2 separate regions of the Homo sapiens genome follow, and region 1 is linked to region 2. Evidence: fine-mapped expression QTL. A gene starts in region 2. The other region holds a variant in brackets. All regions are shown on one strand. Distances are between the middles of the regions.

Region 1 (5,358 bases), 400 kb after region 2:
GCTCCCAGTCCCCAGCCTACCTGCTGGCCCCCTCCCTTCCTGCTGCCAGTCCCCAGCCTACCTGCTGGCCCCCTGGAGGTTCCCTGGCTGCCTCGGGTTAATGATCACCCCCAAGTGCCCTTGGATTTGACCCCGGTGACTTCCAGGAACACCAGCAGGCTCCACCCCTCCCCCGGGCTAGGGCTGCCTCCCTCACTGGCTTCCTGAGATGGAGAGGACTGGGAGAGAGGCGTGGGCAGGGAAGAGTGCCATAATCTCCTCCTAAACCGGACAGGGCCCTGCCCCCCTGGCTAGCTGCAGACCCAATATGGGGACAGGTGTGAACCAGGCAAACACGTGCTAGCTCAGGAGGGCTTCCTAGAGGAGATGAGTAAAAATTTGCAGGATGAGCTTATGGAACTCTGGGCCAACCAGAGCAGGACACATATCCCAGGTCCCAGGGGCAGGACAGCCACAAGGACCCATGGCAGCAGCGAAGGCAGGGGTGGGTGGGCCGCAGGACAGGGCTCCCCAACCACATGCAGCCTGGGGTGTGCCTGGCCTGTCCCCAGGGCTGCCTCAGCTGTGCGTCTCCCTGCCTGCAGGTGCCCATCGTCCCCGTGGTGTACTCTTCCTTCTCCTCCTTCTACAACACCAAGAAGAAGTTCTTCACTTCAGGTACCCCCACATGTGTGCACCCGGGGTGTAGGCCCCGCCTGACCCTACAGTCACGGAGCCCCGGGCCCCTCATCGTTCCCATTTCCGGGTGGCACCCGTGGCGTGGCCACACGGTGACCATGTGGCGAATGAGTGACTCAGGCTGGAGTCCCAGCTGTGGGCTTCATGGCCTCATGGCCCTGTGAGATGGGTGGTGCTGGGCCCATTTTTCAGATGAGAAAACTGAGGCTCCAAGAGACTTCACACGGATGGACCCCAGCTGTGCACACAGCTTGGGGGCCTGGAGGGCGGCCTCTGAGCCCATGTGTCCAGGCTGATGCCCGCATAGGGTAGATGGAACCCAGGCAGCCCAGGGGCACAGGCTGCGGGGCTCATGACCTCTTGCCCCTTCCAGCCAGTTCCCAGAACGTGGGCACCTGGTGCCCAGGCAGGACAGTGGGGTCAAAGTTGGAGAGCAGTGGGGGAACCCAGCTCCATCTCTCCCACAGCCCCTCGCCCCGTATGGAGGGCAGAGGCCAGGCAGTGAGGTAGGGGCTGATCAGGAAGTGGGGCTTTCTGGGGGCAGTAACAGGGGAGCGCAGACTTGTCGAAAATGCGGCGTGAAGGCCAGGCAGCCATGGGGTTTACTGCAGCAACGTTACTGCAATTAAAATAACCCACCACGGCTAGGGAGTCCAGGGGAAGAGCCCGGCCTCGGGCTTCCCAGGGAGGGGCTGTGGGGGGCTGGGGAGAGGCGAGGCCAGGGCAGCAGGCTGAGGTGGGCCCCAGCTCCCCACAGGCCACTGAGGTCTGTTGCTTCCCCCACAGGAACAGTCACAGTGCAGGTGCTGGAAGCCATCCCCACCAGCGGCCTCACTGCGGCGGACGTCCCTGCGCTCGTGGACACCTGCCACCGGGCCATGAGGACCACCTTCCTCCACATCTCCAAGACCCCCCAGGAGAACGGGGCCACTGCGGGGTCTGGCGTGCAGCCGGCCCAGTAGCCCAGACCACGGCAGGGCATGACCTGGGGAGGGCAGGTGGAAGCCGATGGCTGGAGGATGGGCAGAGGGGACTCCTCCCGGCTTCCAAATACCACTCTGTCCGGCTCCCCCAGCTCTCACTCAGCCCGGGAAGCAGGAAGCCCCTTCTGTCACTGGCCTCAGACACAGGCCCCTGGTGTCCCCTGCAGGGGGCTCAGCTGGACCCTCCCCGGGCTCGAGGGCAGGGACTCGCGCCCACGGCACCTCTGGGAGCTGGGATGATAAAGATGAGGCTTGCGGCTGTGGCCCGCTGGTGGGCTGAGCCACAAGGCCCCCGATGGCCCAGGAGCAGATGGGAGGACCCCGAGGCCAGACGCACACTGTCCGAGCCCTCTGCTCAGCCGCCTGGGACCCACCAGGGTGCAGCTGGGCTCCAGGGTCCAGCCCACAAGCTGCATCAGGCTCTCTGGGAGAGGAGGGGCCTGGAGGGCCAGGAGTCCCAGACTCACGCACCCTGGGCCACAGGGAGCCGGGAATCGGGGCCTGCTGCTCCTGCTGGCCTGGAAGACTCTGTGGGGTCAGCACTGTACTCCGTTGCTGTTTTTTTATAAACACACTCTTGGAAGTGGCTGGGGAGCTGTGGTCACTCACAGGGCGGGCAGGTGACCAGGGCGGTGGAGGCGACGC[T/C]GTGTCTTCCCAGCTGCCCTGCCTAGAGGCCCAGGGTGCAGGCACCGCCACCCACCCGTGTTCCCTATCCAGGAGTGGACCCACATCACCCTATACTACTTCCATCGATGGGTGGGGGTGTCGCCTAACGGGCAAGTGTGCCGGGATCCTCAGGCTACTGGGAAGGAGGCCAGAGATTTGCTCTTTGGCCTCTGGTTGGGGCCAACATGTCCCCAGGACAAAGCTCTCTGTGGCCTCACAGAAACCACCTGCCCACCCCCTCTGCCTTGGACCCCCTCCCCACCCCACGACTGCCCGCTCCACCAGGCCCCCTTTGCCAGCTGGCACCCAGCAGTGGGTCTGGGAGGGGTGGCCAGGAGGTGAGCGCCCTCCTCCCAGGCCCCCAGTCCATCCACTGACACAGCAGCTCACGTTTCATTTTTATTGTGCTGGGGGTCAGGCAGCAGCCCCCACTGAGGCCCCACCCAGCCTCCGGGCTGCCTGGCCTGTGCCATGGGTCCCAGGCTCCAGCAGGGAGCTCGTACCTTCCCTCAGCTGAGGGCCCACCTGGCCTTGGGATGCCGTTGGGGTAGCCAGGGTGGGGGTAGCCAGGGGTGGATTCACAGAGAAGATCCCAGCCCATCCCATGCCAGGGTCTGGGGAGCCTCCCGAGGAAGGGGAGGAGGAAGAGGAGGAAGGCCCTGCCTGGCCTTCCGCTCAGTCACCCCGAGGTGGTTTCTGGACCCCCAGCATGTTGGGCAGGGGCATGGGGGCTGCAGGGCGGCGTGAGGGGCTCAGTCCAGCCTGGGGCGCTGGGCAGTCACGAGTCTTTCTTGCAGGAGCCTAGGGTTGGATGAGGCGAAGGTCAGAGATCACTGCTCCCCACAGCCTCCCCGCCCAGCTAGATCTGACTGGCCCCTTGGCCTTTGGTCGCCCCCGACCCCCAAGCCTGGGTAGCCCCTCTAGGCCCACTGGGCCCAGACCCGGGAGGAGGGCTCTGGAGGGTGGGGGCACTCACAGGACCCCAGCTGCTCCTCCAGGAAGGAAATCTGCTCGCTCAGGGAGTCGATGCGGCCGAGCTGCTGGAAGGAGTGCACCAGGAGGCTGCCGGGGTCCGGGAGCCCATGCTCCAGTGCCTGCGAGGCCAGGCTGTGCAGTGGGGCCAGCACCAGCTGCAGCTTCTGTGGGTGCAGAAGGGCAGTGACCCTGGGCCGGCCCCCGCCCTCTCTGCTCCACCGGGGTCTAGGGAGGACCCCTGGGAAGGGCTCCACAAGCCTCCAGCCCCCGCCTCCGCGGCAGGGCTCCAAGTGTCCACTAGAGGGGGCTGCCGTGGCAGAAAAGCTTGCCGCAGAGTGGGTGCCTGGGGCATCAGGCTGGCGGGGTGGTCCCAGCCTTGGGGTCCCTGGCAGGAGAACTAGGGGGACAGCTGGACCACTGGCCAGTGGGAAGACTGGCAAGAGCTCTTTGTCCTGGTGGGGACAAAGATGGGGGGGTGGGGAGGTCTCGTCTGGGTCCAGGCTCTGTGTATTGTCTGGGGGGCTGTCAAGCTTGGTTCCTCCGGCCCTGGGGGGTCCTGGTCAGTGTCCAGCTGCTTCTGCCCAGCATGGATCCAGGCCAGGGCCCCCTCGGCAGTCAGCAGCGAGGAAGCCACCTCCCCAGGGCCAGGACCTTTTCAGACCACCCCCAGCCATCCGTGGGTCGGGACCATGTCCCAGGAGACTACGGAGCCTGTACCCGGGCCTGGGCCTCTGCTGTTGTGAAGACCTGCCCCCTGCCGACGTCTCACCTCCTCCAGCAGGTCCACCCTGGACTGCCTGCCTCCCCCCCCGACGCCTCATCTCCTCCAGCAGGTCCACCCTGGACTGCCTGCCCCCCCGACGCCTCACCTCCTCCAGCAGGTCCACCCTGGACTGCCTGCCCCCCCGACGCCTCACCTCCTCCAGCAGGTCCACCCTGGACTGCCTGCCTACCCCCCCGATGCCTCACCTCCTCCAGCAGGTTCACCCTGGACTGCCTGCCCCTCCACACCTCACCTCCTCCAGCAGGTCCACCCTGGACTGCCTGCCCCCCCCCCCCCCCACCAATGCCTCACCTCCTCCAGCAGGTCCACCCTGGACTGCAGCCTCTGCACTTCTTCCTTCATTGCACTGTCCACTCCTGCGGGCAGAGCCAGGCGCTGGGTCACGGCCGGCCGGCTCCCCACCCACACCCCCAGGCTCCCTCCTGTCCCCAGGGAGAGGCAGAGCCAGAAGACTCAGGCCCAGGCCTCTGCCGCCCCCGCTGCCTGCCTGGCGCTGGCCAGAGGTCTCAGGGCTATGCCGCCTAAGTACGTCGGGGCGGGTGGCTCTGCGCAGAGGCTCAGGGTCCCGGCCACGCTGAGGGAGGTCAAGGCTGAGGTCTCAGCGGCGTTTTCGATGCGGTGCCGTGGACGGCGCATTATTACTCACGGTACGAGTTTGAAGTGTCACAGCGCGTACCAAAAGTAATAATGTCCCGTCGCCAGCGGAGGCGTGGCGTCTTCCAGAATGCTGCGCTGGATGCAGACAGGACCCCGGGACGGGGCACTTCTGCCTTCTTGGCTGATATGAGGCTCCGGGCAACCTGCCCCCAGTTCTCGGGAACCCACCTATCCTCCCTCCCCATCCTCCCTCCCTGGAGAGGGAGTCCCCACCGCCTTCCGCCCAGATTCCAGTGCCCCCCACCATGCCTAACAGCCACACGGCAATGTCCACTGCCTGCCCGCCTCCCCAGGCCAGGCACAGCCAGGGCTGTTTACCTGTCGGGTTGGGGGCCACCCTGGGGGGCCCTCCCTTGGGCACACAGAGTGTACCGTCTGCAGACAGGCTGTGCCCCTCCCAACACTGGCACCAGTAACTGCCGGCGGTGTTGACGCAGCGCTGGGGACAGCCGCCCCTCCTAGCACTGCATTCATCCACATCTGCAGGAAACGGGGTGTCAGGCGGCCATGCCTGCGGGAGGGGTCCTGCCCACACAGCTCCCTTCACAACCACCCACTCATGGGCCAGCAGTAACCCCAGGACATGCAAGGAGGTGCCCAGGACCCTTCCAGGGC
Region 2 (5,358 bases):
AGCTGCCTGCTGAGCACGGCTTGTGCCTGATCTCCAGCACCTCTGCCTTTGCAAGCTCAGGATCCATTCTCCACCCCGACCCATCAGCCGTGCCTGACCACAGCCACTCCTGACCACAGCCGCTGTGGCCCAGGGCACTCAGCTCACTGGGACCCCGCGGGTCCCTGGTCAACGCAGGCGGCTCTGGCCGGCAATCCGCAGCCACCTGCTGCCGCACACCTGGTGACCGCCTTAAGGAAGCCTCGGGTGAAGAAGTGGTTGCAGATGTTGCCTGCATTGTACAGCAGGCTCCCGTCGGAGGCACGTAGCTGTGCGGTCTCAGGACTGATCTCGCTGTACTCCACCACCTGGGGGACACCGTCCACCTGGCACACCACGCCCACGGGCTCCTCGGGGTATGCCTTTTCCACCACCTGCAGCCAAGACCAGGGATGGGTTCCGAGGGCTGGGCGGAGGGGCGGGGCTCCGTGAGGGGCGGGGCCAGCCTCGGGTGCGGGGCGCCGCGCAGTCGGGCGCTAACCTTGGCGCCACAGTCTGCGCCCTGCAACACACAGAAGCCGATGAAGACAGGGTCCGCCAGCCGCACCAGGATGTTGTCCACACAGTACACGTGCACAAACTCCACTCCCCGGCGCTCCATGTCCTCCAGGATCTTGTGGTCCTCCAGCGCGCAGTAGAGGCCCCCGTTGCCGTCTGCAGACGGAGAAGGGAATGGGCATCGCGAGGGCTCCCGCCAGGGATCGCTCTGGGAGTCTAGGACGTGCTGGAGGCGGGGGAAGCCCCGGCCTTGTGCCTAAGGCAGCCCTGGTCACTAACCAGACAGCCCAGTTGGTGTACCATGTGACAAATGACGATCAAGGCCCAGAAAAAGAGGCGCCTAACCCAGGACCACACAGCCTCGGGGCAGCCGCGAACCCGGGCGCGTGGACCCCCAACTACGCTCCCAGTTCTAGTCTGGGCGGTCCCTCCCCGTCTCAGGAACGGGCCACACCTGGGGCCATGGCAACTTTGTCTTTCCGCTCCAGGATAACCTTGCCATCAAAGGTCACAGCAGGCAGCAGGCGCTGCTCAAACATGACCACGTTGGCGGGGTCCAGGTGGAAGAAGTTGTGCTCCCTGAAGAACTCGGCCGTGGGCCCCAGAGTGAACTCGCTGGTCATGACGTACCTGCAAGGGAGGCGCGGTGAGCCGGCCGCGAGTACGCCTGGCCCTGCAGGCAGACGGGGCTCGGACCAGAGCCGGCATCGGGGTTCGGGGTCCAGTGTCCAGTTGGGGCTGGGGCCAGGCCCCATTTTGGGCCGGTTCTGGGCAATGTCCCGGTCTGTGCCGGGGTTGGGGCTCGCGTCTGGAGCGGGGATGTGGGGGGGCGTGGGGAAGGGTACCTCCGGGCCGAGGTAGGGCAGGCAGGACACACCAGGGGACGGTGCAGCGGGTCCCGTGGCGCTCACCGGCCAGCTGCTCCACCCGCCGAATCCGCTCCGCCTGCAGCTGGTACAGGGTCTTCCGGCTGGGCAGCCCCACACGGTACATACCCTTGGGGTAGGTCACGCCCAGGCGAGTGCCCTGCCCCCCAGCCAGCAGCAGGACGGCCACCTTGTTCAGAGAAATCTGACGGAAACCTGGGGGTACGGGCGCCGTGAAGGGACGCCCGGGACCCGCCCACCCTTCCGCTTTAGGGGAAACCAACTCTGGGGCTGGGGCGCCAGGACTCGGGGGCCGGAACGCGTGAGGCGAGACACGTCTCAAAGTAGCGAGGAGAACTACAGTTCCCCGAGCGCGGCCTCGGTTCCCACCCGCTCCGTGGGCACGACCCCCTGCCGGCCCCCAGGGCCTCCCACCCCGCTTACCTTCCTCCTCCCAGCGCCGCCGTGTCTCGGGGTCGCTGCGGCTGGCCCTGCCCACGCGCTCTGGGGGCAGGGGCCGCAGGCGCGCGGCCAAGTCGGGCGGCGGGCCGTGGGGGCGCGCGCAGGCCTCCGCCGCCCGCCGGCAGTGCTCGCGCAGCGCCTCGGGCTCCAGCAGCGCCAGCTCCGCCAGCAGCGCGGCTCGTGGCTCCGGCGCCAGCTCGGCCCAGAAGCGCAGGAGGTGCTCCTGGCCAGCGCGCTGCAGCCGGGCGCGCACGTCCTGCTCCGAAGCCATGTCGCCGCTGCCGTCTGTCAAGTCGGCACTCGTGACCCGCGCCACTGACCAGCGTCACGAGACCGGGCGGGCGGTGTAGACCCCCCAGTGGGGCGGGCCCCGGGCGCCCCGCCCCGCCCCGCCCCGCCCCGCCCCATCCCGCCCGGTCCCGCGCCCTGCCCTGGAGCCCGCCCACCCCCGCTGCGCACCCCAGACTCTGTCCGGGTTCTCTCTGACCCCGCCCTGTCTACATCCCCCCAGCCCCCCCGCGTCCGGTCCGAGACTCGAGACAGGGCCCAGCCCCATCTCTCCAGCCTGTCCCCCGTCCCTCTCCGTCCCCTGGACCCGCTCCGGTGTCTGGCCCTGGCCTGCTCCCTCGAGCTCCCGTCCCCGTTCCTGCTCTTCTCCAGGCCCCGGGCCCATGCCCGCCCTGTCCACTCCGCGCCCCGCCCCGAGAGATCCCAGGACCCTCTGGGTCGCGCCAGCTGGCGTGGGCAGAGGAATCGACCATTGAGCTAAGGGAGGAAGAGGCCCCAGGGACGCCCCGCAGGGGAAAGCTAGGTTCTGTCCCAGCACGGGCTTTGAACCTGAGAGTGGCATGGCCACCTTTGCGCTAACCAAGACTTGGACGGAGACCTCCTGGTGCAGAGACAACCGGCCAGAGTGCATTGAAGAGGCCTGGGCTACGGCTGAGCTGTTGGGAGGCTGGAACCAGACCAGGTTCCGGGATGCCATCCCGCGGCTTGGGGCTCCCTCCCGCACACCCTTCCTGCTTCCCATTGCCTGGTGACCAGAGCGCTCTGCAGCCCCTCGCCCACATTGTTATTTTACTATCAGGTTTTAAAATATCTTGCTTGTGGTCGGCGCGGTGGCTCAAGCCTGTAATCCCAGCACTTTGGGAGTCCTAAGTGGGGTCAGGAATTCGAGACCAGCCTGGCCAACATGGTGAAACCCCGTCTCTAATAAAAATAGAAAAATTAGCCGGGTGTGGTGGCAGGCGCCTGTAGTCCCAGCTACTCGGGAGGCTGAGGCAGGAGGCCTTGAACTCAGGAGGCGGAGGTTTCAGTGAGCCGAGATCCTGCTGCTGCACTCCAGCCTGGGAGACAGAGTGAGACTTCTCAATAAAAATAAAAATAAAATAGTTTGCTTGTGAAAAATATGAAAGGGTAGCTTCTGCCAGTTGGGCACAAAACTTTCTCCTAGAAACTATATAGTAAGTCTAAAAGTAATATATGTGACTGCATAAAAGAATTCAAATGGTGGCCAGGTGCAGTGGCTCATGCCTGTAATCCTAACACCTTGGGATACCGAGACAGGATGATCGCTTGAGCCCAGGAGTTCAAGACCAGCTTGGGCAACATGGTGAAACCCCGTCTCCACTAAAAATACAAAAATCAGCCAGGTGTGGTGGCGTGTACCTGTAGTCCCAGCTACTTGGGAGGATGAGGCACGAGAATCACTTGAACCCGGGAGGCGGAGGTTACAGTGAGCCAAGATCGCACCACTGCACTCCAGCCTGGGTGACAGAGCGAAACTCTGTCTCAAAAAAAAAAAAAAAAAAAAAACCGGGCGCAGTGGCTCACTTCTGTAATCCCAGCACTTTGGGAGGCCAAGGCGGGCGGATCACCTGAGGTCTGGGGTTTGAGACCAGCCTGACTAACATGGAGAAACCCTGTCTCTACTAAAAATAGATACAAATATTAAATATAAATATAAATATATAAGCATGGTGTTGCATGCTTATAATCCCAGCTACTCCAGAGGCTGAGGCAGGAGAATCGCTTGAACCTGGGAGGCGGAGGTTGCCATGAGCCAAGATCGCGCCATTGCACTCCAGCCTGGGCAACAAGGGCGAAGCTCTGTCTCAAAAAACAAACAAACAAACCGAAAAAGAAAAACAAATCATGCTGTTACAGGAAAGAGGTTCCAGACCTCAAGAGAGGGTTCTTGGATCTTGCGCAAGAAAGAATTCAGGGCAAGCCCATACAGTAAAGCAAAAGCAAGTTATCAGGAAAGTAAAGGAATAAAGAATGGTTTCTCTACAGACAGAGCAGCCCTGAGGGCTGCTGGTTGCCCATTGTTATGTTTTTTTGGATGACATGCTAAACAAGGAGTGGATAATTCATCCCTCCCCTTTGTAGACCATATAGGGGAACTTCCTGACGTTGCAGTGGCATCTGTAAACCGTCATGGTGCTGGTGGGAGTGTAGCGGCAAGGACAACCAGAGGTCACTGTCGTTGCCATCTTGGTTTTGGTGGGTTTTGGCCGGCTTCTTTATCGGAACCTCTTTTATCAGCAAGGTCTTTGTGACCTGTATCTTGTGCCGACCTCCTGTGTCATCCTGACTTGGAATCCTTTAACCATCCAGAAATGCAGCTCAGTAGGCCCCAGCCTTATTTTACCCAGCTCCCATTCAAGATGGAGTTGCTCTGGTTCACACACCTCTGACAGTGATCTAGGACCCAAAATGAAAACTAACATCTCCCTCATGCTGCCCCGTGGACCCCTCAGGCAGTTGTGTTTCCTTGCAGTTGGGTTCTGCCCCCACCTCCACACACATGCCCTCACTGAGTTTGGGAGGGGGCTTCACCCCTGGGGCAAGGCCCACATGCACTCTTCTGGACCTGCATGGAGTTGCTTTTCGGGCCTGCCTCAGGGTCTCTGCACTTCCTGTTCCTCCCTCCTGGACCGCTTGTCCCCAGAGAAACGTGTGGCTGGGGACGCATTTGGTCAGGCCTCAGCTCCCCAGGCCACGCCCACTCGGTGAGCACCTTCCCATCCTCCGTGCCAGGCTGCCTTTCTGCATTCTTGGCTACCTGACTCCCCTGTGAGAAGCGAACCCCACAAAGGCGGGGAGTTGCTGTTTTTGTTTTGTTTTGTTTTTTGTTTTGAGACCGTGTCTCATTCTGTCGCCCAGGCTGGAGTGCAGTGGTGCAATCTCGGCTCACTGTAACCTCCGCCTCCCGGGTTCAAGTGATTCTCCTGCCTCAGCCTCCTGAGTAGCTGGGATTACAGGCGCCCGCCACCACACACAGCTAATTTTTTGTATTTTTAGTAGCGATGGTTGGCCAGGCTGGTCTTGAACTCCTGACCCCATGATTTGCCCGCCTCGGCCTCCCAAAGTGTTGGGATTACAGGCATGAGCCACCGTGCCCAGCCCAGGCAGGGCATTGTTTAGGCCAGTGGTCTGCCCCCATCACCTCAGGTAAATGCAGCACACAGTAGGCACTCAATCAATGTTT

The links. PIP is the estimated chance that this variant, and not a neighbour inherited with it, causes the effect. A credible set is the group of variants that fine-mapping cannot tell apart.
Region 1: its variant is the best candidate, but not a certain one, in a credible set for the expression of UAP1L1 in skeletal muscle (FUSION, PIP 0.72).

The regions. Positions count from the first base shown.
Region 1 is chr9:136,670,034-136,675,391 of GRCh38, reverse strand. It overlaps EGFL7 (EGF like domain multiple 7), which reads right to left. Exons shown (of 11, transcript NM_016215.5): 8 at 5,062-5,223; 9 at 4,378-4,442; 10 at 3,304-3,466; 11 at 2,714-3,128. The coding sequence ends at 3,106. It overlaps AGPAT2 (1-acylglycerol-3-phosphate O-acyltransferase 2), which reads left to right. Exons shown (of 6, transcript NM_006412.4): 5 at 585-657; 6 at 1,465-2,249. The coding sequence ends at 1,640. MIR126 (microRNA 126) reads right to left here and starts at 4,790; the gene lies at 4,706-4,790. RefSeq lists enhancers at 118-617, 4,958-5,358. The variant T/C (reference allele first, on the strand shown) is at 2,307.
Region 2 is chr9:137,074,311-137,079,668 of GRCh38, reverse strand. It overlaps UAP1L1 (UDP-N-acetylglucosamine pyrophosphorylase 1 like 1), which reads right to left and starts at 2,152. Exons shown (of 9, transcript NM_207309.3): 1 at 1,848-2,152; 2 at 1,415-1,619; 3 at 992-1,167; 4 at 521-693; 5 at 220-413. The coding sequence starts at 2,136. RefSeq lists enhancers at 550-1,428, 5,004-5,063, 4,774-5,358 and silencers at 1,790-1,889, 1,900-1,959, 1,970-2,219, 2,230-2,319.